Linked DNA regions of Homo sapiens. The protein of the gene in region 1 purifies or fractionates together with the protein of each later gene. This does not show direct contact. Each region holds a gene or a part of one and is shown in the gene's direction. Other genes may lie near its edges.

Evidence for each region.
Region 2: the proteins of IL17RE (region 1) and PPFIA1 purify together in Homo sapiens (affinity purification with mass spectrometry; one large-scale study listed by BioGRID and IntAct). This does not show direct contact.
Region 3: the proteins of IL17RE (region 1) and PSME3IP1 purify together in Homo sapiens (affinity purification with mass spectrometry; one large-scale study listed by BioGRID and IntAct). This does not show direct contact.
Region 4: the proteins of IL17RE (region 1) and HMMR purify together in Homo sapiens (affinity purification with mass spectrometry; one large-scale study listed by BioGRID and IntAct). This does not show direct contact.
Region 5: the proteins of IL17RE (region 1) and FAT3 purify together in Homo sapiens (affinity purification with mass spectrometry; one large-scale study listed by BioGRID and IntAct). This does not show direct contact.

Annotation. Positions count from the first base shown.
Region 1 is NC_000003.12:9,911,923-9,917,084, forward strand, and holds the end of IL17RE (interleukin-17 receptor E isoform 1 precursor), read left to right. Parts: intron 1-4; coding exon of another isoform or gene 5-129; intron 130-1,783; coding exon of another isoform or gene 1,784-2,033; coding exon 2,034-2,102; intron 2,103-2,479; coding exon of another isoform or gene 2,480-2,625; coding exon 2,626-2,677; intron 2,678-2,756; coding exon 2,757-2,855; exon of another isoform or gene 2,856-3,328; coding exon 3,329-3,885; 3' UTR 3,886-4,475; downstream 4,476-5,162.
Region 2 is NC_000011.10:70,321,329-70,327,482, forward strand, and holds part of PPFIA1 (liprin-alpha-1), read left to right. Parts: intron 1-3,073; coding exon 3,074-3,175; intron 3,176-3,479; exon of another isoform or gene 3,480-3,518; coding exon 3,519-3,683; exon of another isoform or gene 3,684-3,799; intron 3,800-4,171; coding exon 4,172-4,246; intron 4,247-4,933; coding exon 4,934-5,035; intron 5,036-5,268; coding exon 5,269-5,490; intron 5,491-5,771; exon of another isoform or gene 5,772-5,926; intron 5,927-6,154. UniProt on the Homo sapiens protein: May regulate the disassembly of focal adhesions. May localize receptor-like tyrosine phosphatases type 2A at specific sites on the plasma membrane, possibly regulating their interaction with the extracellular environment and their association with substrates.
Region 3 is NC_000016.10:57,179,540-57,183,039, reverse strand, and holds part of PSME3IP1 (PSME3-interacting protein), read left to right. Parts: intron 1-489; exon of another isoform or gene 490-1,423; coding exon of another isoform or gene 1,424-1,486; intron 1,487-3,500. UniProt on the Homo sapiens protein: Promotes the association of the proteasome activator complex subunit PSME3 with the 20S proteasome and regulates its activity.
Region 4 is NC_000005.10:163,479,944-163,486,097, forward strand, and holds part of HMMR (hyaluronan mediated motility receptor), read left to right. Parts: intron 1-2,660; exon of another isoform or gene 2,661-2,698; coding exon 2,699-2,845; exon of another isoform or gene 2,846-3,076; coding exon 3,077-3,229; exon of another isoform or gene 3,230-3,324; coding exon 3,325-3,424; intron 3,425-4,125; coding exon 4,126-4,302; intron 4,303-6,154. UniProt on the Homo sapiens protein: Receptor for hyaluronic acid (HA). Involved in cell motility. When hyaluronan binds to HMMR, the phosphorylation of a number of proteins, including PTK2/FAK1 occurs.
Region 5 is NC_000011.10:92,229,874-92,236,027, forward strand, and holds part of FAT3 (protocadherin Fat 3 isoform 1 precursor), read left to right. Parts: intron 1-6,154.

The DNA of each region.
Region 1 (5,162 bases):
ACAGGAATAACAGAGGCAAGGGACTGGCCCTCCCACATTCAGGTGTCCTGTAGCCCAGGGGTCCCAATCCGTGAGCCGCAGACCAGTAACTGTCTGTGGTTTGTGAGAAACGAGGCCACACAGCAGGAGGTAAGTGGAGGGTGAGCAAGCATTACTGCCTGAGCTCTGCCTCCTGTCAGTCCAGTGGCTGCATTAGATTCTTATAGGAGCGCAAACCCTATTGTGAACGGTGCATGCGAGGGATCTTGGTTGTGAGCTACTTATGAGAATCTAATGCCTGATGATCTAAGGTGGTTTCATCCTGAAACCATTCCCCCAAACCCCAACCCCTTCAACCTCTGTGTAAAAATTTTCTTCCATGAAACCAGTCCCTGGTGCCAAAAAGGTCGGGGACCACTGCTCTAGCCTAACAGAACAACATTTAATACTGATGCCTTCCCTTGAACCCAGCTGTCCGCTACCACTACTCTCCTGCCTCCACGAGGCACCTGTGCAGAAGTTATCTATCCTAGGAGGCAGAGCCCATGCAGCTGACAGGCTCTGCACAATCCTGTAAACTATTGACAAATTTCACCTGTTACGTAACTAGGAGCACTTTATCAGACTATCTTCCATGTATCTGATATAAAAACCACAGTCAAGTACACCCTCAATACCACAGCACCACGCTGACTAAGCATGACTAGCTCTTTCAAACAGTTATTTCTTAAATGCTCACTTGCAGCTTATATGTTTGTTTTGCATTGTATGAGGGCTCCCAAGCAGACAGGTGATAGCAACACAGTATGAAAGACCAAGTCACGCTTAAGATGGCCACATGCAGTGTCTCACACTTGTAGTCCCAGCTGAGGTGGGAGAACCGTGTGAGCTCAGGAGTCCAAGGCTGCAATGAGCTATGATCATGCCACAGCACTCCAGCCTGGGTGACAGCATAAGACTCTGACTCTAAAAAAAATGTTTTTAATTAAAATTCTGTCCAATTTAGTATGCTTTGTGCCCACCCTGTAGCAGGCTCTGGGAGATACAAGAAAAGTATATAACACAGTTAAGGAGTTCATAGACTAATAATAGCTGTTACCAATAAATGAATATACATTGTAGTTTATTTAAAAAGACATTCATGTGCATATACCCATTTGATGCTCTCAATAACCCAGTAAAATAAAGATTATTATCCCCCATATAAAAATGAAGAAAGTAGGCCAGGCGCAGTGGCTCACGCCTGTAATTCCAGCATTTTGGGAGGCTGAGGAGGGCAGATCACCTGAGGTCAGGAGTTTGAGACCAGCCTCACCAACATGGCAAAACCCGTCTCTACTAAAAATACAAAAATTAGCTGGGCATGGTGGCGTGCACCTGTAATCCTAGCTACTTGGGAGGCTGGGGCAGGAGAATAGCTTGAACCCAGGAGGTGGAGGTTGCAGTGAGCCAAGATTGCACCAGTGCACTCCAGCCTGCACGACGGAGCAAGACTCTGTCTCAAAAAATAAATAAATAAATAAATAAATAAATAAACAAACATAAAAAAATTAAAATAAAAATGAGGGAAGTGAGCCTTAGGAAAGAGAGGTAACCTACCTCCATGCAAGGACCACAAAGCTAGGGACTACAAAGGCAACAGTTAAGCCTGGACCCAGGTCTCCTGACCTTAAAACTTACATTCTTTTCAATGATATGTTTTGATACCTCTTCAGCTGTGCAGGAGAGTAAAGTGAGACAGCCTTCCTGGTTTGTGAGCTGCTAGAGGACACAGACAATGTCCGCACCCGCCTTCTTTCCTCAGGGCTTGGCACAGAGGACACACTCAGAGTCTGTCTGTTGACAAATACCTGACTGCAGCAGGAGCTGAGCTCTGGGAAAGATCAGTGGGAGCCGGAGTGACTGGGGAAGCCTTCTTGTCAGAGGTGGCACTTGGCCTAAGCCTCGTAGGATTGGGGGTGTGGTGGGGAGGAACAGCAGGGGCAAAGACTCAAGGCCAGACAGGGCCAGATTCACCTCCCTGGGGACAGCCTTTCTGCTCTTTGTTTCTACAGGCCCGGGGCTCAAGCCCAGTGTCACTAGACCTCATCATTCCCTTCCTGAGGCCAGGGTGCTGTGTCCTGGTAAGGAAACCTACCCTCACTCTACATACAGAGCCTTGGCATCTGCTCCCCTAGTGGCACCCACCCCTGGAAAATCCATTCTGCAAAAATGTTTGGTTTGGCCAGCACAGTGTTTTAAATTGAAATTGCTTACCACCATTTACATATATAAACAAAGCTGGATTTCTGGCCTCTGTTGAAAAATCAGAAAAACCTAGTGCCGTGTGTCCACATTCTGGCATGGTGACAATGGCCTGGAGCTCAGTGCCATCTGATTGTTTCAGTCAGGGCCTGTGCTCTCCAGGTCCTCACAGCAGCCCTGGTCAACTTTGAGTTTACTTTTTGAGTTTGGCCCCTGTCACACTTGAGTTTGCCACCATTGACCTGTTCTGTGCCAGGCTAGCAGCTGGAGCAGACACAAACCCACCTGGGAAGAATTCCCTAGCCAGTGGGGACTCCCCTCTCCCCCAGCTCCATGCTTCACTCAGCTCCCCGGGAGGAGAAGATGCCTGGCTCATAGGGGTGGGGGGCTCTGTGCCCTCAGGTGTGGCGGTCAGATGTCCAGTTTGCCTGGAAGCACCTCTTGTGTCCGGATGGTGAGTTCTTGGGGAGGGGGAGGTAAGAGGGAGGCTGGGCACTGAGGAACTGGGCTTGGCCTCATCCTGCTTGACTCAGTCTCTTACAGACACCTGGGGCTCTTGATCCTGGCACTGCTGGCCCTCCTCACCCTACTGGGTGTTGTTCTGGCCCTCACCTGCCGGCGCCCACAGTCAGGTAAGCTCACCTGGGGTAACCTGGGAAGTCAGACCTGCCCAGCTCGGAGACTAGCTGCCCCCTCACCCTCCCCTGTCTGAGCTCTCAGCACTGCACCCAATCTCTGTTACCCAGGCAGGGAGCCTCAGGCCCCCAAGTGAGCAGGAATGGTTAAGGCAAGGCAAAGGGCCCTCTGAGCATATTGTCACTGTACTGAGTCTCTGTACAAAAGGCTAGTGGGGCAGAAATCCAGCCTGCGCTGTACTCGCCCAGCCTGGAGCCCTGACCCTCTCTTCAGAAGGGGTGCCTTTATCTAATTAGCCCATAAGCACCCTATAGGCTAGGGCTGTTTTCGGTACCAACCCCCAGAGCAAATAAGGGGCGGGGGCGGGGGCGGAGAGGCGAGCACCCTACGGTATCCCGAGAGGGTGGGGAGAAGAGGGCTGAGCAGTCCCTCAGCCGCCCAGCCTTCATCTGTTGCTTCCCGCCACCAGGCCCGGGCCCAGCGCGGCCAGTGCTCCTCCTGCACGCGGCGGACTCGGAGGCGCAGCGGCGCCTGGTGGGAGCGCTGGCTGAACTGCTACGGGCAGCGCTGGGCGGCGGGCGCGACGTGATCGTGGACCTGTGGGAGGGGAGGCACGTGGCGCGCGTGGGCCCGCTGCCGTGGCTCTGGGCGGCGCGGACGCGCGTAGCGCGGGAGCAGGGCACTGTGCTGCTGCTGTGGAGCGGCGCCGACCTTCGCCCGGTCAGCGGCCCCGACCCCCGCGCCGCGCCCCTGCTCGCCCTGCTCCACGCTGCCCCGCGCCCGCTGCTGCTGCTCGCTTACTTCAGTCGCCTCTGCGCCAAGGGCGACATCCCCCCGCCGCTGCGCGCCCTGCCGCGCTACCGCCTGCTGCGCGACCTGCCGCGTCTGCTGCGGGCGCTGGACGCGCGGCCTTTCGCAGAGGCCACCAGCTGGGGCCGCCTTGGGGCGCGGCAGCGCAGGCAGAGCCGCCTAGAGCTGTGCAGCCGGCTCGAACGAGAGGCCGCCCGACTTGCAGACCTAGGTTGAGCAGAGCTCCACCGCAGTCCCGGGTGTCTGCGGCCGCAACGCAACGGACACTGGCTGGAACCCCGGAATGAGCCTTCGACCCTGAAATCCTTGGGGTGCCTCGAGGACGACTGGCCGAAAAGCCGCATTCCCTGCCTCACAGGCCGGAAGTCCCAGCCCAGTCCCCGCGCGCGTCCCTCTTCCTCCTCATACTTTCCCTTGACTGAGAGCTCCTCTAACCCCTGTTCTGATGGGGGAGGGCGGTCTTCCCACTTCCTCTCCAGAACTCCAGAAAGAGCAGTGTGCTTATGCTTCAGTCCAGGCTGGAGAGGTTGGGGCCGGGGTAGGGAGGCAGGAGCCATGTCAGTTCTGAAGGAGGGTGAGGCGGTGGGGGATTGCAGGGGGCGGCTGAGAGAAAACCTCCTTGGGGGCCAGGGATTCCCTTTCCCACTCTGAGGCTCTGGCCAGAGGGAGAGAGGACTCTGGACCTAGGAAAAGAGGCTTTTGGCTCCAGGTGGTCAGGACAGTGGGGGTTGGGGGTGGGGTGGGTGGGTGCTGGCGGTGGGGACCAAGATCCGGAAAGATGAATAAAGACAAACATGACAAACTAAGAAAACACAGTGTGCTTCTCTAGTGTGGCTGGGGAGCCTGCCTGGTGGGGTATGTGTCAGTGTGCTGGCCCAAATCCTCTGTGTCCATACCGCATGGCATCCGTCACATTCTTACAAGCAATGCCTCCAAAAGCAAAGGAGGATGGGGCAATCTCCTTGATCCCCCCCAGTGATTCTTACAAGAGGAGAGGAAAACAGAGGCTTCGCCAGATGGTGTGTCCATCATCACACAGCCGGCCCACAGCAACAGCACAGATGGGACCCCTGTCTGCCAGGCTCTGGGGTCCTGGGTTCCTTCTACTCCCCATACCGCATTTGAGCCAGGCAGTGGTGAAAAGCCCACTTTCTGGTGCCTTTTGTCCGTGCTTTTAGAGCTCCTGTCCCACAAAGGGTTACCGAGGCCCAAAGAGTGTCTGAAGGGACCGAGTGTGCCTAGTAAGGGGAGACTTAGTGGGCCCAGGACTCCAGGGCTGTGTCCTCCTTAGGGCTCCGGGGGTGAGTAAGAGCTCCCTTACTCAGCCGTGATGCATTCGCTGTCTTCTTCAGGGGCCCCTCCCAGCCAGGTGTCAGCAGAGGGAGAGGAGAGCCAAAGAAGGAGGAGGTGCGGCCACCACCCTAGTCCAAGGCTGCTGGCTCCCAAGCCTGGTGTTGGTGGGAGGGACAGAGAGGGGCGGGAACAGCCAGCAG
Region 2 (6,154 bases), on another chromosome or scaffold:
CTGAATGGACTGAGCCACTAGACAGGGAGGAGAGCACCAGCAACAGAAAACCTTCTGTCGCGATGAGCCCGAGACCCCAATTCCTCTATGCTCAAAGACCTCTAATACACATCCTCACAGAGCTGATGCCTTACAGAGCTGTGCATTTACTGCATCGGAAATTTAAGGACAGTCTGGCAAAAACTGTCAAAATAAGTATGTTTAAGATGCTTAAAAAGATAAATTAGCATCCATGAAAACAAACAAGAAATTGCCCAAAAGGAAACAAGAGTAAGAAGATATGACCCAAAAAAGAAAAAGAAAAAGGAAGAAGAACTTGAAATCTAGTAAATGAAAAGGATATTAGCCAGGATGATAGACTCTGGACCAGACATAGTCAAAGACAAAATTAGTGGATTGGCAGTTACTTCACAAAATTGACCCAGATGACAGGGACAAGATGGAGGGGCACAATGATAAAATTCAAGGTCCTGAATTCAGGCAGGCCTGTAGCCGACTCTGTACTTTGACTTGACAGTTATGTGCCATATTATGGCTATTTATTAATTATTATTTTTTGAGATGGAGTTTCGCTCTTGTTGCCCAGGCTGGAATGCAGTGGTGCAATCTCGGCCCACCGGAACCTCCACCTCCCGGGTTCAAGCGATTCTCCTGTCTCAGCGTCCTGAGTAGCTGGGATTACAGGCATGCACCACCATGCACCACCATGTCCAGCTAATTTTGTATTTTTAGTAGAGATGGTGTTTCTCCATGTTGGTCAGGCTGGACTCGAACTCCCGACCTCAGGTGATCTGCCTGCCTCGGCCTCCCAAACTGTTGGGATTACAGGTGTGAGCCACCATGCCTGGCCTAATAATGGCTTTTTAACTGAAGCTAGTTTGAGTCTGTTTGCTTTTTGCCTGCAAGAGAAATAATCTTTCCTCATGTACGAACCCCTTCATGAGATGACAGTGTTTCGTTAAAGTTAGCCATTAGATGATCTGACAGTCAGCTAGAGTTAATTATCAGAGATGTAAATCGGTATTTGATATGATTAATATTGGCACATAAGAAATCTCTGAAACTTAGGAAGGAAAACAAACTTGGTGGGAGGACATGGACAGAAGACCGGTCTACTTGGCGGCCTCTCCCTACCCTCCTCCCGCACGCTGCCCAGCCCAGGAGCCCGCTTCTGAATGCTGCGTTCGATCTCTGAAGAGGTTTCAGCACTTACAGATCCTTACCAGGTTTTAAGCCACATTTGGGTGATCTTCATTAGTATTGTTGGCATTTCTTTGTGTTTGCAAGTATGCACTGAAATACTGAATTGAAGAGCTATTCATGTTCTTTAGCTAATTTTATGGTCTCAGGAGCAGCCTTGTCTCCAAAACTCACTGTATAATATGTTTATAATGTCTATATATATTTAATTGCAATAAAATATACTAAGATAAAACTTGCCAGCTTAAGCAGTTCAGTGAATGCTAGATTCATGTAGTGGAATGTGCTTGTGTCCCCTCCCCACCCCCGCTGTGTTCAGCCTCTGCTGTTACTCCCCAGCCAGGCGCAGCTTTGGATGTGTCCACAGTCACCCTGCTGCTGTCTTCCACTCTCTCTGACCACACTCAGTTCTGAGCCCCACATATGTTTCTGTTGTCTTCAGCAGTGCCCTGGGATAATTAGAAACCAATTCAGTGAAATTGTGGCTAATTCTAAGAAACAGTTTCTGAAGTCATTTTAGGAGATTTGTTCCTACTCTGGAGGGCTCCTGCAGCAAGAATTCTCCAGCTCTCCCTGCTGACTAGCCAGCCGCAGTCCAGGCTGTGCCTCCATTAAACCCACACCTCCAGTTGCCTTCACTAGGACCTCCACTGCTCCTAGGTTTAAAGAGAGTGCCCAGGGTTTAAATGTTAGTGCCCTAACATTTAAAGAGGTTTAAATGTCACCAAACTCGTTTCTCCCTGAATGACGCCCCTGGTCTTATGGCGGCAGCCAGGGCCCTCTCAGCTTGTCACTCCAGCCCTGCAGCTACCGTCTTACAGAGCCAGGGCACAGCTGATCAGGACCCCCAGTATTCTCAGCCTGCCACACTCAAAGTTGAGCCTCCATTCCAGAATGGAGGCTGGACAGAGGTAGGAAGGCCCACTTTGCCCATGACTCCACTAGCCAGGATGCAGCATCAGCACCACGTAGCTGGGGTGGGGTGGAACTGGGGGAGAGGGCACTACATTATCAGCTGCAGCAGTCTGGAACAGAGTCGCTGCCTCACTGACCTGGAAAGGGGAGGCAGGGAGCAGTCTTGGTTCAAATACAACAGACTCTGGCCTTTCTTACTGAATTTTCAGTTGTTTGCTGTGAACCCTTAGAACGATCTCCAGAGTCTCAGAACAGTTGTTTTCTTACAATGTTCACCTGTTTTCCTTGGGAGCAAGCAGGTCAGTGGAGCTTCTTGTGCTGTCATGCTAGAAGTTGATTACCCACAGTAGGGATTCTTGCAGAAGAAATATTACTTTAGAAGAGAGGCTGGGCACGGTGGCTCAAGCCTGTGGTCTCAGCTACTTGGGAGGGTCACTTGAGCTCTGGAGGTCAAAACTGCAGTGAGCCATGGTCACACCATTGCACTCTAGCCTGGGTGACACAATGAGACCCTGTCTCAGAAAGAAAAAGGAAGAAAAGGAGGCTAGGACAGGGGTGGTGGCCTTCTAGGCCATCTTTCCTCTCTCTCCAGCAACTCTAGATCACATGTCTGTGAGTCATTTAAAATGTCTTCATTCAGTTCATGTCAGGATCCTGTTCAGGAAAATGTTTTGGACTTCTCTGGCTGCTGAGAAGGTGGACTTGGATTCCCCTTCTTTCCCTGCTGTCCTTGTCCCAGGGTGCAGGGATAGAGGGAAGTCAGATGGTCTGTCAGTGTTGTGATTTGTTAGGGAATCTGTGTGGTCCATTGATGCCCTCTTTCTCTGGAGGATCACTGAGATCCCTTCCCCATAACTTGTAATGAGGTTGCCTTTGTGTGAAGACTGTGGAGCCTTGATGAAAGGCTTTCTTTAGGGGGTCTTTCTTATTTATTTAATTTTGTTTTGTGATTTTCTAGGAGTTCGCAGCACTTACTAAAGAACTCAATGTATGCAGGGAACAGCTCCTTGAAAGGGAAGAAGAAATTGCTGAACTGAAAGCAGAAAGGAATAACACCAGGGTGAGTGTGACCTTTCTGTTCACTGCCTGCCCCTGGAGCCACTGTCAGGAGGAGGGGCGGTGTGTCAAAACGAAAGGACGACCCACTCTGTCTGGCCTGAAATACTTTTCATACCTTTTCCCACTGAGCAGACTGTGATTAGTCAGCATGATCACACATTAATGGCTTGAAATTTGTGATGAGAATTTATGATATTTTAATACAATTGAGAGGAATTTGTTTTTCTGCGGAATTGAAGGGACTTCATTTTAGTATGAGACTGTAAAGGAGTTATTTGCCCCAGATTCAATCATGAAATTAAAAATGCTGTTTAACAAGTCTTTATTTTGGCCTTTTATTTCAGCTGCTGTTAGAGCATTTGGAATGCCTTGTCTCCAGGCATGAGCGGTCTCTTAGGATGACCGTGGTGAAGAGACAAGCGCAGTCTCCAGCAGGCGTGTCCAGCGAAGTGGAAGTGCTGAAAGCACTGAAGTCCTTATTTGAACACCACAAAGCTCTGGATGAAAAGGTGCCATCAGCCACATAAGTCTTGGTTTGTGCACATGCTGTGTATTAGGCCAGCTTCACAAGTGTTGGTGTAACTTTTGTTTTTTGAAGCTTCTTGAATTCTTGGAAATAACTTCTCTAAGAAGACAGGGTTTTGTAGGTTTAAAAAGTACTAATTGGCTTAAATGTCTTAAAATTACTAATGTATATTGATTTGCTGTTACAAATTGGGTAGTATTAGGTTGTTGCAAAAGTAATTGTGGGCAAAACCTGCAATTACTTTTGCAACAACCTGATATTTCGGGGGAAGATTTATTTTTCTGAAACTTAATTTAGAGCCATTAACAAGTTTTCTTGACAGTAAGATCAATGACAGACATTAATGGTATTTTATTATGTTATATTACACTAATATATACATTAAGTGTATATATTACACTTAACTATATATTAAGAATAAAATAAACAGTATACACACACACACACAAACTCAACCCCTTTTATTTTCAGGTGAGAGAGCGATTACGAGTAGCACTTGAAAGATGTAGTTTGTTAGAAGAGGAATTAGGTGCCACACACAAAGAGGTAAGCTTGAGACTTCATCATGAGTTGAATTGGGGGGGGGTTATTTTTATCCTTTAATTATTAAAAGCAGCATAAGGCCAGACGTGGTGGCTCACACCTGTCATCCCAGCACTTTGGGAGACCGAGGCGGGCGGATCACCTGAGGTCAGGAGTTCCAAGACCAGCCTGACCAACATGGTGAAACCCCATTTCTACTAAAAATACAAAAATTAGCCAGGAGTTGTGGCATGTTCCTTTAGTCCCAGCTGCTCGGGAGGCTGAGACATGAGAATTGCTTGAGCCCAGGAGGTGGAGGTTGCAATGAGCTGAGATTGCACCATTGCACTCCAGCCTGGGTGACAGAGCAAGACTCTGTCTCCAAAAAAAAAAAAAAAAAGTAAAAGAAGTATAAGGACTGTAGTTGTACATATCACATGTTACTTATCTTCCCAATTGAGGACCAGCCTATCTGAGTCATTTTAAGGACTACAAAATGATGGTTACCTAAGGACTCGTCTGGCCAGTGGATAATAAATTCCATCTTCAATGATCTGGTTATTTTCGGATTGGGTAGCATTGCCATATGCTTTCTCTTTTATACTATGTTAAGCAGTTTTTAGTTGTGTTTTTCCAAAAGGAGTTTTGCTATCTTTACTTATTTCTCTTATGTAAGGTATTTTACACTCATATTCAATTTTTTGCTTTCAGCTAATGATTCTTAAAGAACAGAATAATCAGAAAAAAACTCTAACAGATGGAGTGCTGGACATAAACCATGAACAAGAAAATACACCAAGCACGAGTGGAAAGGCAAGTCTGTAGGCTTTGTCTTTATTCTGTTTGATTTCATTTGTTCACAGTATGTGTCGGGTTATGTGGAAAACAGTTGCTAAAGTACCGGCTTAGAGCTGAAGTGGTCATGAAAGTTGTGTAATCCAACAGATTGCATAAGTCAGTTTTGATTTTAGCTATTTCCTGGAAGTATTTTTATTTTATAGCTCACCAAACAAGGGTATTTAAGGATTTTTTTTTCCCCCTATCAGAGATCTTCTGATGGTTCTTTAAGCCACGAGGAAGACCTTGCTAAAGTAATTGAGCTCCAAGAAATCATAAGTAAGCAGTCAAGGGAACAGAGCCAAATGAAAGAACGCCTGGCTTCCCTTTCCAGTCATGTGACAGAACTGGAAGAGGATCTGGACACGGCTAGAAAAGATCTCATCAAATCTGAAGAAATGAACACAAAATTGCAACGAGATGTCCGTGAAGTGAGCAATAACAAAAACTACAGTCTTGTCATGAAGTTGTATGTTTGGGACGTTTTAGTTAAATGATTTTTTTTCTCTGTTTGTCTCTTACTCTCCCAATTACTTTCAACCTTTGGATTATTGTATAAGTTATATTGAAAAAGAGAGAGTGCTGTGAAACTGCCATAAGCTACCTCCCCATTTTTGTTGTGAAATCTCCTGTCCCTGAGCTCTTCAAAGTAGAGAACTAGTCCCACTGACTGACATGGCCATGAAGTGGACGCCACACTGGCCTCTCCTACCTGTGCTGCTTTAATATTCTTTAATGTCCTTGTTTGTAGATTCTTCATCTGTGCAATTTCTAGGCTGTCTTAATTTGTTCTTATGTTCAGATTGCCTTCTGTTGCACACATACTTAGCAAGCAGATATTGATACTGGCTGTGCTAGCTCACGTAGGGCAATGTGAGTATAGTCTCTTAACTGTGGGAGGGGGCGTTGCTGGCGGTCTTCTCATTTTCTGACCTGCTCCTTCAAGGAATTTGTGGCGTTGAATATTAATGGTCAAACAATCAAGAGTGGAATTTGCTTCTACATGGGTCATCAGGATCGTATAGCAAAAATATGTCACAATATACTCATTGCTGACAAATATTTCTGCCATTATAACTGTGAGAAACTATTTGA
Region 3 (3,500 bases), on another chromosome or scaffold:
GCTGTGTGCCAACCTTATGTCTTTTACTGAATGAGTGTAAGTTCCTCAGTTGCCTGTTTAGTACATAGCATTGTATCTTGCACATAATAGGTTCTCGGTAAATATTTGCTTCAAAAATCTTTTTTCTTTGAGATGGAGTCTCGCCCACTTCGCGCAGGCTGGAGTGCAGTGGCGCGATCTCGGCTCACTACAACCTCCGCCTCCCGGGTTCAAGCAACTCTCCTTCCTCAGCCTCCCGAGTAGCTGGGATTACAGGCATGTGCTACTACGCCTGGCTAATTTTCATATTTTTAGTAGAGACGGAGTTTCACCATGTTGGTCAGGCTGGTCTCGAACTTCTGACCTCAGGTGATCCACCTGCCTCAGTCTCCCAGAGTGCTAGGGTTACAGGCATGAGCCACTGCGCCAAAAAAAAAAAAAAAAAAAATCTTAGTTGGCCTTGTCTGGTTATTGTAATGCAAAGTTTTTTTTTTTTTTTTTTTTTTTTTAAGGGAAATGGGTATCTCCTTATGTTGCCCGGGCTGGCCTTGAACTCCTAGGCTCAAGCAGTCCTCCAGTCTCAGCCTCCTGAGTAACTGGGACTGCGTTTTTTTGTTTTATTTTGTTTTTAATTTGGTCTTGAAGTGGAGTTATATAGGGTGGGGGGAGGGAGGATGGAGTATGACTTGAGGTGTGGGTTAGGTTCTGAAGCGAGCCTAGATGACAAAATAGCTTACAAGCAAAGCTACCCTTGAAATCTCAGGGAGGCAGCATGTTAATTGTAGGAATACCAGTGTTGCAGAACTCTGACATGGCCAGTGTGATATTGTAAAATACATATTTGGCCTTCATCCCTGTCTCCTGTGGCATATGACTCCTATAATCCTTGAAATCTCCAAAATGATTAGTGTCTTTTTATATGCTAAGGAGCTGACTGATGGCTGGCAGCCCCTAAGTAACTTTAGCATGGGGGCTGGTCACTTGAAAGACCCAGGCAGGATTAGAGGGTTGGGACCTTCAACCAATGTCCAACCTCTGGGGAGAGGAGAAGGCAGACGAGCTGATGACCACCAGCGTCACTGGTTTAATTAGTCATGTCTAAGTAATGAAGCTTCCATAAAAATCCAAAAGACTGGGATTGGGGAGCTTCTGGATAGGTGGACATGAGAGGTTCCTGGATGATGGTGCCCCAGAGAGTGCATGGAAGCTCTGTGCCCTTCCCACATGCCTTGCCCTATGCATTGCTTCATCTGTATCCTTTGTAATATGCTTTTATAATAAACCAGTATATGTAAGTAAAGTGTTCCTCTAAGTTCCTCTAAGTTCTGTGAATTGGTCTAGCAAATTAATAGAACCTAAGGAGGGGGTCATGGGAACCCTGATTAATAGCCAGTTGGTTAGAACTACAGGTAAAACAACCTGATTCTTGTGGTTGGTATCTAAAATGGAGGCTAGTCTTGTGGGACTCACCCCTCAACCTATGGGATCTGACGCGGTCTCCATCCAGGTAGGTAGTGTCAGAATTGAACTGAATTAGAGGACACCCAGCTGGTTGGTGTCTGCTACAGAATTGGTTGGTTGCTTGGTGTGTGGGGACATATCCCTCACAGAATTATACTGTGTTGATTGTTGAGTGAGAGAATAGCAAAAATGCTTTGGTTTGGTTTGGGTTTTTTTTTTCTCTATATCCTCAGGCAAGTTTTATTTCGGCTTTGGAAAAAACTGCTGTTTTTCTTCCTGTGAGCCCCAGATGAAGTTGTTGGTTTGTATTTAGGAGTCACAATATGTAAAAAATACAATGAATACAATCATTCATGCATAGTGAGGGAAGTATTTATATTCAGAGAGGTGCATGTGAATGAGGATCAGCTAAGGGAACCGATATTTAAATTAGTTATCTTTCTTCTAGTGTGTATAGGTGAATTCAAGATAAATGCACATTTGAGACCCTGCCCTTGTGCTATGGAAAGATAAATAAATCAATACTTTTTTTTTAACTTCTTTTTTTTCCCCCTCGCCAGGCAAGGTCGGTCTTGTGCTGTTGCCCAGGCTGTAGTGCAATGGCCCTCATAGCTCACTGTAGCCTGGAACTCCTTGGCTGAAGCCTTCCTCCCACTTCAGCCTCCTAAGTAGTGCACCATCACACCTGGCTAATTTTTAAATATTTTTGTAGAGAGAGAGTCTCACTGTGTTGCCCAGGCTGGTCTTAAATTCCTGGCCTTAAGTGATGCTCCCAGCTTGGCCTCCCACAGCTTTGGGACTGCAGGCATGAGCCACTGTGCCTAGCCTGTTTGTCTGTTTGTTTGTTTGTTTGTTTTTAATAGAGTTGGGGTCTCACCATCTTGCCCAGGCAGGTCTTGAACTCCTGGGCTCAAACAATCCTGCCTTGGCCTCCCAAAGTGCTCAGATTGCAGGTGTGAGCTAGTGCACCAGGCCTTAATTTCTTTTCTTTTTTTTTTTTCTTTTTCTGAGACGGAGTCTTGCTCTATTGCCCAGGCTGGAGTGCAGCGGCGTGAAATCTCAGTTCACTGCAACCTTCGCCTCCTGGGTTCAAGCGATTCTCCTGCCTCAGCCTCCCAGGTAGCTGGCATTACAGGCACATGTCACCACAGCCAGCTAATTTTTGTATTTTTAGTAGAAATGGGGTTTCACCCTGTTGGCCAGGCTGGTCTTGAACTCCTGACCTCAAGCGATCCTCCTGCCTCAGCCTCCCAAAGTGCTAGGATTACAGGTGTGAGCCACCATGCCTGGCTGAATTTCTTATTGTATGTGTTTCATAGATGCCTGAAAGATTATTGCAAAGCTGAATTTTTTATTGTATGTGTTTCATAGATGCCTGAAAGGTTATTGCAAATTGCTCCTTATGATAAACATTTAAAATATGGATTAAATTTCTTTTTCTGTGGTTTAGTTTTTAGATTCTTTTAGTCTCCTTTGCTACCGGAATATGTTAATTAAGCTTTGGTGTTAGAAGATTGACTTCACTTTGCCTAGTAATAAATACTAACAGCGGGCTCTCTGTTAGTAGTTGTTGTTCTCTAAATAAATTTTATGATATAGGAAAAGTCAGCTAAATTTTTAAAAATCTAAATAACTGTATCTTGGTAGAAGTGCCTTCTGGCCAGAAATAAGTCTTTATTTGAAATATAGATGAGTTAGCCAGATGGCAAATTCCTCTTAGTTGCTGTCCTGCATTTTGAAGTACAGTGTGACTTGAACATCAGAGTAAAAAATGTTGGAAAGCAATAATCTATATTTACTCACAAAAGGAAATGGATTGACCTATTGCTTTTGCTACTGAAAGTGAAGCCTTAAAACAACAGAACACAGAAACCTGATTCTGGTGTGTTTTAACATGTACAATCTAATTAATTTTAGAATTAGAAGGATATGGTGGCCAGTGATGTAAACACTCAAGTAGTTTGCCATCACATAATTCAATTCCATAGGAAACCAGATCTCATTACTTTGTGTCATGGCACTAGCTAAATGGAGTCATTTTTCAAGTTAGGAATAGCAAT
Region 4 (6,154 bases), on another chromosome or scaffold:
ATATATTAATGTTAACATTTTTATTTATCACATTTACTTTAGCTCATTTTGGGGGAGAGTTTCCTTTCTTTTATTTAATAAATACAAAAGAATGCATAACATGTACATAAACTGTAGAGCTTGAAGATAAAACTGACATGCATGAACCTATAAAAGACAACCAGTAAGCCAAAAGATTTTCAACAACTTAGTATCCATATGTAAGTTCCTCTGCCATCCCATGAAAATGGGACAGATAACACTGTCCTGAAGTCTACACTAATTATTTCCTTGCTTTTTCCCCCCTGTGTATTATAATTTTATGACACGTATATCCATACAAATAATGCATTATGTAATTTTCCTTCTCCTTGAACTTTACCAAAAAATGTCATCATAGTATATGCCGTTTCCTGGGACTTATTTTTTCATTCTGCATTATGTGTGTTTTCAGGATTGAATTGTGTTGTCTGAGGCTATGGTTTGTTGATAGTCACTGCTATGAGTATTTTATTGTATGAATATACCACAACTTATTTATTCATTCTTTGGACTTTGAGTTGTTTCCCATTTGGTTAGTTATTATTAGTTATTTTGTGACTATAAGAATACATGTATGTAAGAATTTCTCTAAAGCCAAAGGTATATGAATGTTCAACTCTAAAACTTAATATCAAATCACTTTCCAATGTGGGAGTAAGAATCTACACTCCCACTAGTGTTGTATAAGTTTCCATTTATCTTCTTTGCCAAAGCTTGTTAGACTTCTTAAACTTTGCCAGTGTACTTAGTGTAAAATGGCTTCTTATTGTGGATAATTCATCTTTCCTTTTCCATAAAATGCTTGTTTATGACTTTTGTTTATTTGTCTATAGGGTTATCATCTTTTCCTCATTGATTTGTAGAGGTTTTCTTTATCAGCCATATGGGTTACAGGTATCTTCTGCCAGTTTAGCTTATTTTTTTATTTTCTTTTTGGTTTCTTCTGATGAGTGGAAATTCTTGATTTCAATATGGTTAAAATATTTATCTGTATGTGGGTACTTTTGCTTCTCATTTAAGAACTTCTTTCTATCTCAAGGTGTAAAGATATTCAACCAGTTTTCTTCTAAAAGTCTTAAAATTTCACTTTCCATTTTTCCACCTAGAACTGATTTCTGTGTGTGTAGCAATATAGGGATCAAATTCATTTTTTGTTTTCCCTATGGACAACCAACTGCCTAGTTTAATTTAATTCATTAAATTGTACCTTGTTTCCCCAGTGATCTGTTCCCACATGTGATACATTATGACAGACACATAGATAAATAATTTATAAGTGTATATGTTTTATTTATAATTTTTATTGTATCAGAACATATAAATCATATAAATATATGTAAATTTTATATATATATATTTATTGCTAATATCAATCCTGTAAAGGAATTTCCCTTCTCGTTAGTTTGAAGAATAGTGCTTCAGGGGGTTTTTATCTATTCTGTGATTTTAGTCACTATCCATATACTCGTGGCATTAAAATTTATTTCATCAAACCAGACCTTTCTTTACAGCTCCATATTCACATATCCAGTTACCCACTTGACATCTTCAAGTAGATATCACACTGTCTTTTAATATTAACCTGTCCAAACCAACTCTTGATCCTTCCATTGCTTTCTACCCCTAGTCTCTCATTGTTTTTATTGTAATCAGTGACATCATCTTCCCAGCTTTTCATTCTGTAAATCTTAGAGTCATCCTTCATCATTCTCTCTTCCTTACCCCCAATATTCAGTCTATCTCTTGAATTTTCCTACTCTGCTTCCAAAAGAGATCTTGTGTCTTTCCATTGCCAGCTCCTTAGTCTAAGCCTCCTTTATCACTCACCTGGGCTGATAAATAATTGTTTTGGAGTTGATCCTTCAATTTTCCATTCTTTTCCCCTGCCCTAATCCATCTTCCTCATAGCTCTAGAGTGAGCTACACATTTAATTAAACACCTTTTTATTTTATTTATTTGTTTATTTTGAGTCGGAGTTTCGCTCTTGTTGCCCAGGCTGGAGTGCAATGGCACTATCTCAGGTCACTGCAACCTCCCCCTCCCAGGTTCAAGTGATTCTCCTGCCTCAGCCTCCCGAGTAGCTGAGATTACAGGTGTCCACCACCACGCTTGGCTAATTTTTTGTGTTTTTAGTAGTGATGGGGTTTCACCATGTTGGTCATGCTGGTCTCGAACTCCTGACCTCAGGTGATCCACCCGTCTCGGCCTCCCAGAGTGCTGGGATTACAGGCATGAGCCACCACGCCCAGCCTACTTGGACACCTTTAATGGTTCCCGTCTGTCCGCCAGGTAAGCCCACTGTGCCCTGCGGTGATGACCCTCATGCCACCAGCTTCTGCTCCAGCCTTTCTTACTCATTAGGCTCTAGTCTCACTTCTTATTTTTTAAATTGTGAGTAATTTTCATGCTTGGTAGTTGATTTCTTTTCCATCTCTGTATGCATACTTCCTGCACCTAGTAGGCACTTGATTTTTTTTTCTTTGAATACACAGCAGATGCCATGTAAACTCATTAGTACTTGCCTCAGAACACTGAATTCTTACCTGTGTTAAATGCATGAATACATTAAAAACTTTTTAGTTTTACTTAGAAGTATATAAAGTGTAAACTAATCAGTTATGATTGTCATACGCAATAGTTAGAAAACTACTTTGACTTTTTTTTCTTTTTAATAAGCTATAAAGCGTTAACAGCCAGTGAGATAGAAGATCTTAAGCTGGAGAACTCATCATTACAGGAAAAAGCGGCCAAGGCTGGGAAAAATGCAGAGGATGTTCAGCATCAGATTTTGGCAACTGAGAGCTCAAATCAAGAATATGTAAGGTATATAGAGCAAATAATGGCCTTAGAACCATTAAGACAATTTAATGTTGAAAGCCAGCTAGTAACTGTCCCTTGGCTTGCTTTTGGCCATCTTATACTGCAAATTAAGAATTTACTCAGTTAAAAAATGACACTTCTTGAAGAGTTCCTTGAGGTTTAAAGAAAAAAAAAGGAAAAATTAATGAAAGTGGCTATAAAATGTTTAGTGACCTCTTCTCTCTCAAACCAAAGGATGCTTCTAGATCTGCAGACCAAGTCAGCACTAAAGGAAACAGAAATTAAAGAAATCACAGTTTCTTTTCTTCAAAAAATAACTGATTTGCAGAACCAACTCAAGCAACAGGAGGAAGACTTTAGAAAACAGCTGGAAGATGAAGAAGGAAGGTAATCTATGATTAGAACCTGAGTGCCTTGTTAACTCAGTTACGATGTGATTTTTTAAATAACTATGTTTTTCTCAATTTAATTCTTCCATGCAGAAAAGCTGAAAAAGAAAATACAACAGCAGAATTAACTGAAGAAATTAACAAGTGGCGTCTCCTCTATGAAGAACTATATAATAAAACAAAACCTTTTCAGGTTTGTCAGTTAGGAGTAAACTTACTTGTGTTTATTTTAGGGACTCACTTTGTTCCCTATTATAGTGAGGACAGTGACTCGGGTTTTCTGCAAGATCATTTTGCTCTGCACTTACAGTGCCAATTTAGCTCACTATTAAAGGTTTATACATTTTATTAAATTATGCATAATTTTTTCCCACATTATTGAAGTATAATTGACAAATTTAATTGACATAATTTTTTCAATGGACCCTTTGTGGTTTAAAAAAAAACTTTGTAATGTGGAACTTAAAAGTTTGGCTCAGAGGGCTTGCCTGGTATGAGCTTTTGATAATTAACCTATTTTAATTTGTGGTATGACTTATTGCAAATACTCATTGTTTCTCAATATACTGATCTTTTAAAAGAAAAAAGAATAAATGCTGATTTTGGAACTTAGAAGTACAGTATTGGTTATAATGTGGTAATCTAACTGATACAGATAAAACTGGCCAGCTGGCTTTTTTACCTTGTTTCTTTTCCTCTGTTTTAATGATCTTTAAAATGAAAAATACAAAGTTTAAAAGATTCTCATAGAGAATCTATGGAGAGCCCTGAGAATATGTGAACATACCTTGTTTTCATTTGTGTTTTTAATTTTCTTTAGTGTTTATGGTTTATATGAAACTAGTAAGATCAAACTGTTTTAAGTCTTAACTTTATTTAAAAAATCTTTTTCAGCTACAACTAGATGCTTTTGAAGTAGAAAAACAGGCATTGTTGAATGAACATGGTGCAGCTCAGGAACAGCTAAATAAAATAAGAGATTCATATGCTAAATTATTGGGTCATCAGAATTTGAAACAAAAAATCAAGCATGTTGTGAAGTTGAAAGATGAAAATAGCCAACTCAAATCGGTTTGTAAAATGACTTTTCATTTTATTAAAGATATTGGAGTGGGGGTTATTCTAACTATAATACTTAAATAAAATGAATATCTTTGGTATCAGAAAAAAATAACTGTTTATAGAGGAAAATTGAGCTGTGATTTAGTGGATTTATTTTAGAGTGTTGACCAGATGGGCATTCAATGTTCTAAAGTTTTCTAGCTACCTTCTTAATATATTGAAAATTACTTGAGTAATTGGATGAATTCATTAAGCTTTACATATCTATTTCCATTTGCAAAACTGCAAACTCCTTGATGTAAAACCATAAAGAGAAGCAGTGTTCAAAAATATTTGGGCATTTAAATTTTTTAACATATGTATTGAGATATAATTGACAACCCATACAATCCACCCATTGAAAGTGGACAATTCAGTGTTTTTTAGTATACTCACAGATTTGTGCAACCATCACCATAGTCAATTTTAGGACATTTTCATCACCTCAAAATGAAACCTTGTTATCCTTTTCCTAACACTCTCCTATCTCCTCACCCCACCCCACCCTTCAGCCCTAAGAAACCACTAATCTACTTTCTGTCTCTGTTGATTTCCCTATTGTGGACCTGGCATATTCATGGATTCAAATAATATGTGGCCTTTTGTTACTGGCTTCTTTCAGTCAATTAGCATAATATTTTCAAGATTCACCTGTGTTGTAGCATGGAGAGTACTTTATTTTTTTTATAGCCTAATAATTCATTATGTGGGTATACCACATTTTATTTATTCGTTTGTCAGTTGATAAACACTTGTTTGCACATTTTTGGCTATTATGAATAATGCTACCATAAACATTCATGTACAAGTTTTTGTATGGACATTTGTTTTTTCCTGGGACATATTATTTCCCTGGGAAATAATAGGAGGGAAATTGCCAGATCATTTGATAACTCTACATTTAATCATTTCAGGAAGTATCAGACTACATTCAGATGAGATCGGGTGCGTTCAGGGTGGTATGGCCATAGAAAGGTCAGGCTGTATTCAAAAGTGGCTCATACCAATCTATATTCTACAGGCGGTGTACGAGGGTTCCAATTTCTCCACATTCTTACCAACATTTGTTATTATCTGACTTCTTTATCCTAGCCATTGTAGTGGGTATGAAGTGGTATCTCATTAACTTAACTTGCATTTTCTTAATTGGTAATGATGTTGGTCATCTTTTCATGTGCTTACTGGCCATTTGTATATCTTCATGAAAGAAATGTCTGTTTATACTCTGCTCATTTTTAAATTGGATTATTAGTCTTTTTATTATTGTGAGAATTCTTCATCAATTCTGGACACAAGTCTCTTATGTATTATTTGCGAATATCTTCTCCCATTCTGTGCATTGTCTTTTCACTTTCTTGATGATGTCCTTTGACCCAAAAAACTTTTATGACGTCCAGTGTGTCTATTTTTTTGTTTGTTCGTTCCTTGGTATCTATCTCCTCTGCCAAATTCAAGGTCAGGAAGATTTACCCCTGTGTTTTCTTCTAAGAGATTTATAGTTTTAGCTCTTACATTTAGATTATTGATTGATTTTGAGTTAATTTTTGTATGTGGTGTGAGGTAAGGGTCCAGCTTCATTCTTTAGCATGTGGACATGCAATAGTCCCCACACTATTTTTTAAAGAGAATATTCTTGCCTCCAGTTAATGGAGTTAGCATCCAATTAAAAAATCATTTAGACTGTACATGTATGGATTTATTTCTAGACTCTCAACTGTCTTCCATTGATCTATACATCTATCCTTGTGCCACCACACTGTCTTGATTACTGTTGTTTTGTAGTAAGTTTTGAAATCAGGAAGCGTGAGTCCTCTTTGTATTT
Region 5 (6,154 bases), on another chromosome or scaffold:
AAAACAGATTTCAGAACTTAATCAATTAAACTCTTCACATAAACAAAATATTACTTCCTTCACCAGATAGATATATATGAATGTGGAGAGCCTAGAGGAGGTGTGAGGAGGGCCACAGCATTGTCCTTCCTTGAACAATGCATTATTGAAGGTGTTGCCTACCGTGGGCGGAAAAGTCATACAGAGGACCCTGAGAGGAGTCCTTGAGCAGTTGTTAGTATTTCAACGTTCTGCTCTTCCAGGGTTCCAAAACTGTGAATTATAGACTCTTTAATAAAGGAAAGTTGTTTCTTTAACTTTTGCCTTTGTACATCTGAAATATATCCCTTTTTAAAATTCTGTAAAGTCACATGGAATTTAAAATAATTTTTTGTCTTTAAAAAATGTCTTGCTTTCTCCTCTATTTTCCCTATTTTATTTTTGTTATTTATTTATTTAGAAACAGAGTCTCGCTCCATTGCCCAGGCTGGAGTGCAGTGGCGTGTTCTTGGCTCACTGCAACCTCCGCCTCCTGGGTTCAAGTGATTCTCATGCCTCAGTCTCCCGAGTAACTGGGATTACAGGCGCACACCACCATGCCCTCTTAATTTTTATATTTTTAGTAGACAGGGTGTTTCACCATGTTGGCCAGGCTGGTCTCGAACTCCTGGCCTCAAGTGATCCACCCACCTCGGCCTCCCAAAGTGCTCGGATTAGAGGCATGAGCCACCGTCCTCAGCCCTGTTATTTATTTTTTAAAAAAATTATTTTAAAGTTCTTTTCAGCGATATTTACTGAATCTACCTCTTTCACAAGACAGTGGGCAAGATTCAAAGAATAGTAAAATATATCCATTGCTTCTGCTTCGTGCTGTTTATTGAGAAAATGAGAGATGCCTGTGTGTGTACACTAGAAGTCACATCTAAAAATGTTTATTAATTGACAAAAGAATGTCTATGAACAGGAGCCTCAAGGAGGAGGGAGAGATTAATGTGAGGTGGAGTAAACTTTTAAGAGGAGTGTAAGTTATTAAAGTGAATATAATTCCATTTAATAATTCTTACTACAGCCCTAATGTATGCAAGGCACTATGAAATAAATTAATTCCTTCATTTGTCAGGGGGCAGTGCAGAGCTCCTTTTTGGAAGAACGTATTCATGGGGCAGCCCAAATGGGCTGTCGGAATGTTAGTTAATATTTTGAGAAGACTTCAGAATTTATTCATGTCCTTTCTCCACTATCCCCTTGTGGTCTCCCACCCCCCAATTTCAAAGGTAACTTTTAGGATTTTTGAATGTGTCTGGGAGCCTGCATGCAGGTGCACATGGTGTATTCTTAGTCCTCTGTTTTCCTATGTTTGAGACTCAGTTATGAATCTCAAGGTTAACTTTGTCACAGAACACCTCAGAGTGTTCTGTCCTTTAGGTATTCATCATTTAGATCTGTTGCTTGGTTTTTTACCTTAAAAAAATTTGTAAAAAATGGCTTACAAAGTAACATTAGCTTCCAGAATGTGAGTGAAAAGGCAGACTTTTACCTTGGACGTTCTCTATGACTTGATCCTACTTGTACTTTTCAGAGCAGTTGCAAATAATATTTCAGTTAATTCTTTCTTTCTTTTCTTTTTTGAGATGTTGGAGATAAGCCCAGCTGTTGAATGAGGCACAGTTATGAAAGGTTAAGTGGAAGTTTAATTGTAACTTCAGGACTTCAACTAAATTAAATTCCAAACAATCTGAAAAAAATTGTAGCCTTTTCAGTACCATGGAAGGTCAAAAAGTGAGCACTCTGGAGCAGCTATTGATGTTTTATATTTTGAGATAAGCCCCAAATTATTAATGCTACTAAATATCATTGAACATTATTTGATAATTGTAAACATCTAAGAGTATGCCAGATGACACAGATTAAATTTAGTGACAAATGTGCTTAATGACAGTATAAATATCAGGGTTTTTTTTTTTTGTCAGATAAATTCTATGTAAGTCTGTGTGTGTTTTCTTTCAAAGCAAAATGAGGCTATATCTTGGTAGCAGGATCAGCTTGGTCTTTTTTGAAACCTAGAGCATTTATCACACATGACATTTTGTTGATTTTTTAAGTCTATGTGATCAATATTTTGGACCTCTGAAATCTATTTTTGATTGTGGTTTGAAATTCTCTGTTGGTTCTAAGTGGTGGCTTAATGATAGCAGTTGCTGTTGTGATTGGGTGAGCAGTGTGTTATGTGATTCATGTGGTACCGTCCCATGCTAGGGTGGATTTTGCAGCTAGGGTTTTCTCAGATTGGCCTGGCTATGGAGAACTTCACTGCAAAGAAATGTACACATGAAAGTGGGCCAAATGCAGATGACTTTAACATCGCCCATGTTATGGATAGAATGGGGTGTGAATCTTTCCCACACTTTCCACTTAAAAAAAAAACCTTTGCTAATAACAGTTTCAATCAAATGAATAAGAATTCAGAAGTGTGTGGTAATCTCTCTTGAGAATTTGGTACCTATCTGATAGGACTGTAAAGGCATTTCAGAATGTCAATTAAATGGAAAAATATGCCTGGAATTGAATATAATTAAGAAATGTTGAAGTCTGGTGTCTACATATTCAGACACTGTATAAGATGGTTTAATTAGTGAACAAGGATTTGGATTTATTGACAGAAGGTCTCTTTCTCATGGCATGTTTCACTCATTAAAAGCTCATAATGTCTTGGATCTTTTTAGCTGTTGGAACTTGACCATTTGTCATTTTGTGCTTCTTGACTTCAGTGATGTCGTTTTTTTTTTTTTTTTTTTTTTTTTTGTTTAACTGTGCAACTGATTAGGATGATGTTGCTTCTCTCATTGATGATTATTTCCATGGAGTGGACGCATGGTGTCTTGTAAACATTATGAAGCATCACCAAAGCACTAGGCAAAACTCAGTACCTCTGAAAAACAACAATTGGGAGGTAGAATTATTATTGTGGAATTTTTGGCCTAGCAACTTAGAAGTAATTAGAGTAACTTCCTCTTTATAACTACTAGCTTTATATTATATTTACCTGATGGCAGAATTTACATTTAAATTCACATTTCTCTACATCTCTCTCAGTTTTTCAGTTAATGGTTTATTAGTTTAAATCCTTTTTATTCCTGACTGTTGGGCTGAAACAGTTTCTAATCATACAGAAGACTGAAATTCTTTTTTAATATTCTTGTTGTTGGATATATTTCTTTTTGAACTGCATTTGATGATTATAAGTGCCTGAAAGAACTGCAGTTAGTAAAGAGAGAACTTGGGAATGTTGACAAGTGAGGTAGGGAGAAACATGGTTCAGTTAGTCCTTGAGGATTTTTCATTACCTGTTTATAACTTAGATTTTGGCTGTCTCCTATACTGGTACTAATGTGAACAGCTACTTTATAAGATTTTTTAATTCCTCATCTTCATAGGTATGTTCTCTAAGTCAGAGCTATTTAAAGTAATCTAGCGTTCCATCTTTCCTGTAGACATAGCAGATCATTCACAGTCTGGTTGAACTAAGTACACATTACATCGTTGGTCGTTTTGGTGGCATGTGCTGGGTTCTTCAGGCCCGTGTCATTGTTGGCAAAGTATACTAAGAGTGCTACTATTATCTTGGACTAATTTTTTCATGGAGCATATTAAATAAATGTGGTGTCTGACCCTTCAAAAGTTAGCTTCCTCACCTGAGTGATGTTCAGCTAAATAGGTATAAGTCGTAATGTATGTGTGATCCTAAGTCAGTAAGATGGTGAACTGAAGTGACATCATCTGCTTGGAAGTCCCTGGATTAACAATGGGACTTATATTTATATTCAGAAGACAACTGCTACAATGAGGAAATTGGGCAATCTAGGCAATTGAACAATTGAATGGGAAATGTAAGACAAAACATATTATATTGCCAGATCAATTCCCTAGATCTTGTTGAATTATACGATAATTAGATAATCTTCTTTTATTTGGAAGTGTACATTTTGTAAGTGTAATAACTTGCAATAATCACTTTATTCCTAAGTTGTATTCAGCAGTGCACATGTTGTGTTCAGTTTACATTCTGCATATTTTTGTTAAATAGGTAGTATTAATAACATATTTTACCTCATATCCAAAGAGAAAGAGGGAGATGCAGGTATTTTGAGATTTATCACTTTCATACAGCTCATCAGTGGTTACTATAATAATCCAAGTGAATAAACCTAGATTGTTCTTTATACAATAGATATGTTTTTAAACATTGAGTGTAAATGACATTTTTCAAAACAAATCACATCTTAAATGCTTTCAACTAGGGAAAATACACTCTTTATTTAAACAGATGTGGCAAATTATTTTTATAAAGTAAATAACAATTTGTCTCTCTTACATTTATCTGTTTTTTAAGTTTAGATTTTGTATATTAAATTTCTCAAAGAGATGCAAGAGTGTATACATATTGGAAATACGTTTTTGTTCAAATATATAATAAAATGAAAGAGTTTGACCTTCTCCCTCAGTACTGCTTTGACGAGAAGTGGCATCAGAGGGGAAAATAAAGGGAGAAGATGGAACTAGAATGAGAAAAAACAGAAATGTCCACCTAGTTTATGGAGATGTTGAGGAAATGTTAAAGTTTAAGAATTTCTGGGCCAGGAGTGGTGGCTCACGCCTGTAATCCCAGCACTTTGGGAGGCTGAGGCAGGCAGATCACCTGAGGTCAGCAGTTCGAGACCTGCCTGGCCAACATATAGTGAAACTCCGTCTCTACTAAAAAATACAAAAATTGCCAGGCACGGTGGCTCATGCCTGTAATCCCAGCATTTTGGGAGGCCGAGACCAGTGGATCACAAGGTCAGGAGTTCAAGATCAGCCTGACCAACATGGTGAAACCGTATCTCTACTAAAAATATAAAAATTAGCCAGGTGTGGTGGTGGGTGCCTGTAATCCCAGCTACTCAGGAGACTGAGACAGGAGAATCTCTTGAACCCAGGAGACGGAGGTTGCAATGAGCCGAGATTGTGCCATTGAACTCCAGCCTGGGTGACAACAGTGAGACTCCGTCTCAAAAAAAAAAAAAAAAAAATTAGCTGGGCGTGGTGGCACATGCCTGTAGTCCCAGCTACTTGGGAAGCTGAGGCAGGAGAATCGCTTCAACCTAGGAGGCAGAGGTTGCAGTGAGCTAAGATTGCGCCACTGCACTCCAGCCTGGGTGGCAGAGCAAGACTCCATCTCTCAAAAAAAAAAAAAAAATTCTGGACAGAAGGGCCAGGCCAGTCCAACCCAGAATCATACCTCTGACAATGTCAGTACTTTTGCTGACACTCCCATTTCTAGCCTTTGGAGCATCCAGAGAAGTTCCCCTCATCTCTCAGGGCCTCTTGTCTTCTGCAGCCCCTCTGCCTTTTTCTCTCTTTGGTACTTCTTGGCCCCTTTATCTCTCCCAACCCTCTCTAGTTCCTGTAGTCACTGGTTGCAGCTCCATGCCGTCCTGAAGGTATTGCTTACACCTGACCTCTTATATGGTCTCTTCATATCTCTGCACTCAGGTCCCCCTACACTTTGTGGTATTATTGCAGCACTGTTCACATGCCTTGTAATGAAATTACCTGCGCGGGTGTCTCTTTCTCCCATAGGCCATCATTCCCTGGGCTCAGTGGGATAACATATTAACCTTTGGTCTCCCACTCTTATTGCTATATCTTGCTGGTATTTAATATTTAAAATTGAATGACTCTATTTGTTTATGTTCAACTTGGTTAGTGATTATGGACTTCCACAATTGACCATCTATGACCAAATATTGAAAAATATCTCTTTGAGCTATTAAGACTGCGTTATGATTCTGGTACTGCAAAGATATATTACTTCTGAGGTCCACATTTCACAGTTGGAGGAAAGATCCTCTAGGCATAAATACACATGCTCTTTATTGGCTGATCTGCTCAAGCTCTGGATCTTTCCTGTATGTTCTAAGCAAGTGTTGGGAACACATCAAGAGGGCATGTTGGATGCATCCAGGTGTCCAGCCGCCTTTCAGTAGCATCACTTTGTCTTCAAGGAATGTATGATAAGGGTGTTATGTACCTAATAGTACATTTGCATGGCGTTTGATGTTCACAGTCGAAGGTAAAATAGACTGGGAGGTAGGAGCATATCTCAGTGCTGAGTTCTTTGTGTCTCAAGAAAGCA